Homo sapiens: one gene and its partner. The protein of the gene in region 1 interacts with the protein of each later gene in a biochemical or structural test. Each region holds a gene or a part of one and is shown on either strand. Other genes may lie near its edges. The genes, in order: SPTBN1 and CAMSAP1.

The links.
Region 2: the proteins of SPTBN1 (region 1) and CAMSAP1 form a complex in vitro, tested with the Homo sapiens proteins (one study listed by IntAct).

What each region holds. Positions count from the first base shown.
Region 1 is NC_000002.12:54,627,079-54,630,993, forward strand, and holds part of SPTBN1 (spectrin beta chain, non-erythrocytic 1), read left to right. Parts: intron 1-1,018; coding exon 1,019-1,172; intron 1,173-1,854; coding exon 1,855-2,725; intron 2,726-2,813; coding exon 2,814-2,951; intron 2,952-3,776; coding exon 3,777-3,915. UniProt on the Homo sapiens protein: Fodrin, which seems to be involved in secretion, interacts with calmodulin in a calcium-dependent manner and is thus candidate for the calcium-dependent movement of the cytoskeleton at the membrane.
Region 2 is NC_000009.12:135,809,947-135,813,861, reverse strand, and holds part of CAMSAP1 (calmodulin-regulated spectrin-associated protein 1), read left to right. Parts: intron 1-2,250; coding exon 2,251-2,553; 3' UTR 2,554-3,915. UniProt on the Homo sapiens protein: Key microtubule-organizing protein that specifically binds the minus-end of non-centrosomal microtubules and regulates their dynamics and organization. Specifically recognizes growing microtubule minus-ends and stabilizes microtubules.

The DNA of each region.
Region 1 (3,915 bases):
TTGACCTTATGCAAGAGATTCCCTTCCCAGGATATAAGCTGTCATCTGTTGCCTACCTCTTGGACTGTTCCTGACAGAGGGGCAAAGTCATCTGATACCATCAGTTTTCCCTCCTATTGTTCCAGATTTACAGTGTTCTTAGGTCTGGTCTCTCTTGACCTCTCAAAATAGAAATGTTCGTAAAATGTAGCAGAGAGGGACTTTTCATTTTATAAATCATGATGCACATTGTAACTCAGTTGGTCCAGAGACTTCCTCAGAAGTAAGAGTGAAGTAGAAATCTCATCTGGCGAGGATGTAGAATGAGGCCCCCAAATTTCGCTGGTTGATGGAAGAAACAAGAAAATATCAGTGGGTTCAAACTTAAACTCTAGAAGTTGCTTGGGGTCTACTAAGCAAGACAGCCACCTGACCCTGCTCTCCTTATTGGTTTAAAGATGTGGCTTGTAAGCTTTTCAAGTAGATTGTTTTCCCATTGATTGTGTAAGTACAGTAGAGGCATACCAATAAGCTCCTAACAGAGGAAAAACATTCACTTACAGGCTCAGCAACTTCTAAAAGATTTCTTTCAACTTTGAAGTGACCAAGTCTATCACCTTTATTTATTTATTTTTGAGTAGTTGTTGCAGCGGTTTCTTCTTGAAGCTCCAGTTTATATTTTGGAATCTTTCATACAGCACCCCCGCCCACGCTCCCCACTGCCCCCTCCCCCCCACCCTGGCCCCGCTGGCCCTCACCATCTTTTTCTTCTATTCTGCACTTTTTAGTGTAGATTTGACTTACTTATTCCAAGTTTGGTGATCCTTAGTTTGTGATAGCTCTCCTGACTCAGGCCTTCAGGTATGATTTGTTTTGTTCTGGTTTGTTGGCCATCATCTTCCCCTGAAGGTGTGGGGTCCATGGCAGACTAGAGGGAAGGCATAGCTTCATTGCTGGCTCTCTGCTTGTCGAAAGATGATGTGATGCTGAAGTCAAGGCTATAGTCACAGATGTCCTTTTGGTTGCTTCTTGTGCACAGGTGCTAGTATTGTCTCAAGACTATGGCAAACACTTACTTGGTGTGGAAGACCTGTTACAGAAGCACACCCTGGTTGAAGCAGACATTGGCATCCAGGCAGAGCGGGTGAGAGGTGTCAATGCCTCCGCCCAGAAGTTCGCAACAGACGGGGAAGGTAAGGATGGCCCATTCCAAGCATTACCTCCGGGTCACCAGAGATTCATATTTATAGAAACACAGTGGGGCTTTTGAAGTTACTGTGCCACTATACATTCCTGGTGGGTTTGTCATGGGAGCATGAAATACGGTGGAGTGGCCTTCTGAACACTAACTCCATCTTGTTTTTCTGGAATTGATACATCCTTTCCTTAAATACGCAAATGCTGCCTTTGCTTTGAGTGGCTTGGTGTTTGGCAGTGAGACTTTGTCATACCTCAGTCTCTCTGGCCATGCACCGACACCCTGGTGTGGCTGTTCCAGCAGCTCCTGGCTTTCACAGCTGGTTGCATATACCTCTCTTTGGAGGATGTTTAGAATGATTTGGTTATGCTTCGTGTATTTCTAGAAACAATTATATGCAGCTGCCTTTTTCATATGATTCAAGTGCTTTCTTGCAGGAGGATGATCACTTTGTCTGCGGTTTGGCCAAAAAAAAATAATGTTTATCATTGCCCTCACTCCTGTTCTAGTCAAGTTGTTAGAAGGTGCTCCATTGCCTTATCGCATGGCCCTGCATTTACATTTAGCAGTGAGCTGGTAATCATAAGAATATGGGGTGTAGCTTACTGCCTGCCAGTGAGCCTGCACCCATGCTGAGCTCCCTCACACAGCCACGTTCCTTCCTTGATGTTAAACAGGTTACAAGCCCTGTGACCCCCAGGTGATCCGAGACCGCGTGGCCCACATGGAGTTCTGTTATCAAGAGCTTTGCCAGCTGGCGGCTGAGCGCAGGGCCCGTCTGGAAGAGTCCCGCCGCCTCTGGAAGTTCTTCTGGGAGATGGCAGAAGAGGAAGGCTGGATACGGGAGAAGGAGAAGATCCTGTCCTCGGACGATTACGGGAAAGACCTGACCAGCGTCATGCGCCTGCTCAGCAAGCACCGGGCGTTCGAGGACGAGATGAGCGGCCGCAGTGGCCACTTTGAGCAGGCCATCAAGGAAGGCGAAGACATGATCGCGGAGGAGCACTTCGGGTCGGAGAAGATCCGTGAGAGGATCATTTACATCCGGGAGCAGTGGGCCAACCTAGAGCAGCTCTCGGCCATTCGGAAGAAGCGCCTGGAGGAGGCCTCCCTGCTGCACCAGTTCCAGGCAGATGCTGATGACATTGATGCCTGGATGCTGGACATCCTCAAGATTGTCTCCAGCAGCGACGTGGGCCACGATGAGTATTCCACACAGTCTCTGGTCAAGAAACACAAGGACGTGGCGGAAGAGATCGCCAATTACAGGCCCACCCTTGACACGCTGCACGAACAAGCCAGCGCCCTCCCCCAGGAGCATGCCGAGTCTCCAGACGTGAGGGGCAGGCTGTCGGGCATCGAGGAGCGGTATAAGGAGGTGGCAGAGCTGACGCGGCTGCGGAAGCAGGCACTCCAGGACACTCTGGCCCTGTACAAGATGTTCAGCGAGGCTGATGCCTGTGAGCTCTGGATCGACGAGAAGGAGCAGTGGCTCAACAACATGCAGATCCCAGAGAAGCTGGAGGATCTGGAGGTCATCCAGCACAGGTGAGCGGGGCGCTGGTCAGCCACTGGCCTGTTCCTTGTGACCACCAGTGGCCCAGGAGGTGACCACCCTGTCAAATTGCCATTTCAGATTTGAGAGCCTAGAACCAGAAATGAACAACCAGGCTTCCCGGGTTGCAGTGGTGAACCAGATTGCACGCCAGCTGATGCACAGCGGCCACCCAAGTGAGAAGGAAATCAAAGCCCAGCAGGACAAACTCAACACAAGGTGAGCACGTGGCCAGCAGTGTGCCAGCCTCCCACGTGTGGGACTGGGGAGGGTGAGGTCACTCATCGAGCTTTGCTGTTGGGAATTTCCCACATGGGGTCATCGACATTGCAACACTGATGTCATGGCATTGGCACCTGCCTTTTGACATGTCCTTGTTTTGTAAGAAGTGTCTCTCAGGGCAACATCATTGGTTGCAGGAGGATTATCTGAGTCAGCCCAGCATCTGCCCCTCGCCACACCAAAGTTAGGGCCTTGGTTTGACCTGTGTCCAGTGTAGAAGGTATTAAGATGACACCTGTGCTATCCATTTTATAGTAACTTCAGGAACAGGACTCTAGCATGTTTAACACTTAATTTGCCAATGAAAGTCCTGATTGTCAGGGCAGACCTTTGTTCCAGTCTTATCTTTCTGTTGAGTAAACATGTTTGAGTAGGTTATGGCACCTGGCCCCAGTTTTGAAGGTTACCATCAGTCTTAGATTTGGAAAACGTTCATTAGGTAGAGTTCAGAGATGTGTAAAATGTGTCACAGACATGAATTAATTGACTCTGGGAATGGATATCTTGTAATTGCTCACATTGGAGCTCTGTAACACATTCCTCTTCGTGACAGGCTTTTTCCAGATTACATTGCATCCCTGAGCTATTTCCATTATATTTGGTGTTCACAGTTTGAGTGAGATGATTTTCCAAAAAAGCATGTAGTCAAAGCACAGATGGAGAAAACAGATAAGCAGCATTAACCCATCACTGTTCCTTTTGCAATCCAGCCATGGTCAGTCTTCCCTTTTTCACACTCGCTGTCTGCCCCTGCACTCACAGGTGGAGCCAGTTCAGAGAACTGGTTGACAGGAAGAAGGATGCCCTCCTGTCTGCCCTGAGCATCCAGAACTACCACCTCGAGTGCAATGAAACCAAATCCTGGATTCGGGAAAAGACCAAGGTCATCGAGTCCACCCAG
Region 2 (3,915 bases), on another chromosome or scaffold:
AGACTGGATGCCCTGAGCTCTCCTTGGGGGCTGGTCACAAGGCACACTCCCTGCCCAGTGTGCAGCAGTGTGCCTGACGCCTGGGAGGAAACCAGCGTCAGCGTGCAGACCAGCAGTTCAGGCTCAGGAGGCCCTCCTGTCTTGCCAGTGAGTGACTGGGAGCGAGCTCTGCAGATAGCAAGTTCCCAGGTGCCCACCAAGGGCCGCCCAGCAGGCAGGCCTTTCTAGGACAGCAGCCCTCTCAGCTGTGCCACATAAGCTGTGGGCACCACACGCTTCCTTATCGTGCAGGCAGCAATAAGTAAATAAGATGAACCCCACTCCCCACAGTCCCGCTGTCGCTACAAATTAAATGTTTCTTTCTTTTTGGCATCTAATTCTGTTCATATTTAAACACAGTGAGTAGGGTTGAAATCAGTATTATATAGACAGTTTTGGATTCTTTTAAAAAATACGTATTATTTAAAATAATAAACCCCATTATATGCTGATACATTGCATATTTATGAAAAGTAACTTTTCTAAAGCCAAATAAATAGAAGAGTGGCATTGACATAAGAGGGCTGGCATCTCAGCCGCTCGGGCCCTCCGTCCATTACAACCACACAGCCCAGGGCCTTGGGAAGGTTCTGCCGCACACTTGGGAGAGGCGATGAGGCCTTAGCCTTTCGAGGTCGAGGGCTTGACCCTGAGATTCCTGGGAAGGCCTCAGGATGCCTGGGCCGCATGTGGAGAACTGTGAGGGCAGACCCAGGTGCACTCCCATTCCCAGGCGTGTGGAGGGTTTGTTTTTAAAAGTTACCAAAACACTTGAAGATACGTTTTAAACTTTAAAATACAATCAACAAACGCGGCGACAGGCATCAGCAGTTTGTCATACTTCAGATTCTTCTTTTTTTTTTTTTTGAGATGGAGTCTCACTCTGTCGCCCAGACTGGAGTACAGTGGTGCAATCTCAGCTCACTGCAACCTCCACCCCTCCAGACTCAAGCGATTCTCTGAGTAGCTCGGACTACAGGCATGTGCCACCACGCCTGGCTAATTTTTGTATCCTTAGTAGAGATGGGGTTTCACCATATTGGCCAGGCTGGTCTTGAACTCCTGACCTCAAGTGATTCGCCCACCTCAGCTTCCCAAAGTGTTGGGATTACAGGCGTGAGCCACAGCGCCCGGCCCAAACAGCTTTATGAGATATCATTCACATACCGTAAAATTCACCCTTTTAAGTTATACCATTCAGTGGTTTTTAGTACATTAATAGAGTAGCACAACCATCACCACCGCCTAATTTCAGAGCATTTTCATCCTCATAAAAAGAAACTCCACGCCCGTGAACAGTCACCCCCCTAAGTCTTCCCGCGCCCAAGCTCTTGGCGGTCGCCAGTCTGTCTCCATGGATTTGCCTGTTCTGGGCATTTACATAACTGGCATCATAATTATATGGCCTTTTGGGTCAGGCTTCTTTCACTTAGCGTGATGCTCTGAGGTTTCTCAGTGTAGTGTGTACCGGACCTCCATTCCTTTTTGTAGCTGGGTAATGCTCCATTGCATGCTCCGACCCCATGCTGTTCATCTCGTCATCTGCTGATGCACACTTGGGTTGATTCTTCTTCAAACATTTTTTATTGATAGGGAACAGATGTGCATGCTTTTGGGGGTACATGTGATATTTTCGTTTCTACTTTTTGCCTGTGAAGGGATAGTGCTGTTATTTATATGCAGTGTTTTGTATGGATGCGTGTTTTCATTTCCCTTGAGTACATATGTGAGAGAGGAATTGCTGGGTCCCACGGTAACTGCCTGATGGTTTGGAGAAGAGCCAAGTTGTTTTTCACAGCAGCTGCTGTGCTCTGTATCCTTCTGGCAGTGAAAGAGCCCCATGGCTCGCCAGCACTCGTTACCGCCCTGCTTCTGGGTTCCAGCCGTCCTTGTGGGCATGACGCGACGTCTCTTTCTGACTGGCATTTCTCTGGTGGCTGATGATGAGCATCTTTTCATATGCTTTTCCATTTAATCGTAAAAGCATTCTTTTCCCCCTTGCTTGCTTAGACTTCTTAAGTAAAGTCTCAATGGCATATAATGCTCCCGTACAGGGGTCTGCTGTAATTGTTTACAACAGGCAGGCCGTAGCTGACGGGTGGGAGAGCTTCCCACGGAGCGGTGCTGGTTGAGCCGCTGTGGGAGCCCAACTCGTGGCAATTGGAGTGGCCCTGAAGTGTTTGTCTCTTCCCCTTTTCTCTCTCTGCACAGGAGCTGGAGAAGTGTGATGCCAATCACTACATCATACTGTTTCGTGATGCTGGCTGCCAGTTCAGGGCGCTTTACTGCTACTATCCTGATACTGAGGAAATCTACAAACTCACTGGCACGGGGCCAAAGAACATCACCAAGAAAATGATCGACAAACTGTATAAATACAGCTCAGACCGAAAACAGTTTAACTTGATCCCAGCCAAAACCATGTCTGTCAGTGTGGACGCACTCACAATCCACAACCACCTGTGGCAGCCCAAGCGGCCTGCAGTGCCAAAGAAGGCCCAGACTCGTAAATGACCCCGGTGCAGCTGGCGTCCAAAGGGTGACCCAGACTCGTAAATGATGCCCTTGTGGCTGGCATCCAGAGGGTGCCACGGGGTCCTTATTTATTGTTTTCATCTATTTGGGTACGAAGTGTGCAAAGTCACAGACCTTTTGCAAAGAGGTTTCTAGACAGCAGAAGAAAACCCCTCTCTCAGCGCTCATCTCACGCAGAGGATGCCAGGCAGGGTGAGGATGGGGGAGTAGATGCCGCTTTTGCAGTGGCTCGCACTGCTGTGGCCACTGCTGACCACTGAGGCTCCCAGCGGAGGGTGTTCACAGCCAGGTCCCGGGCCACGGAGCTCCCTTACTTGAAGTTCTCCTTCAGCATAGATTAGACGTGATCCACTTTGCTTTCTTGCTTCTCACCTCGCCCCCTTGCACATTGCCTGACACCCTCATATTGGCCAGCTGTAATCTCGTGACTATGGGACTGAGGCTCAATCTTGGCTTGGGGTGTTTGAATGTCTATAGCAAAGGAATTCATAATGGGAAATCTTTTTCATTTGAGAAATTGTATGATATTTATTGGTTGTGTCTACTGCCAACATTTATATCCAATTCTAAGATTTCTGAAAAAAAATTCTTATCCCTTGCTGCTCAGAAAAAGTTTACGGAAAACACCAGTTCACTAAAAGCACCGAAATCTGCAAAGCCTGTCTTCCGCTAGAACAACGTCTACAAATGTGAAGATGATGACTTCTGGCACGCGGTCATGAGGGTGGGGAATGGCACTAGGAGCTGATGTTTGCCTCATTTAAAGTAGGCAAGCCGAGCCAACTGCAGCCATCATTCATTAAGTTTTGGGTAGTGCTCTAATGGTTTGTTCACTTTAATAAAGACAGATTTTGGTAAAGTAGAATATTTTTCATTCTGAGCATGTTTGTCCCAAAAGGTGATGCACTTAAGCTGACAGTCCCTTCAGTGGTTTTGTTAGGTCACGGCTTGTCCTGTCTGGATTCTGCATCTGGAAGCGCTGCATGCTCTCAGAGGAGCGTGCCGTTTCCCCTGTAGATGGATACTTTTGTTTTGTTGCCTATTTAAAAACAATTAAGTGGTTATTTGCAGTTATTTCAGAACTCCAAGTAAGTGGATGGCTTTGGGTTCTTTCTGCCTTGGTCCCAATGGTGTTGATGCTTCTGTGGAGCGCGGACATTCCCAGGAGCAGGTGCGTGCCAGCCATGGCTGCCAGACACTGCTGCAACTGACCAGCTGCCGGAAGATTCTGGAGCCACTAACATTAGTTTTGCACATATTTTCTTGGGAGTGTTACTTGAATCTATCTCAAACTGCAGAAAAAATCAAAAGATCAATAATTGGGAGAAAAAGAGACAAATT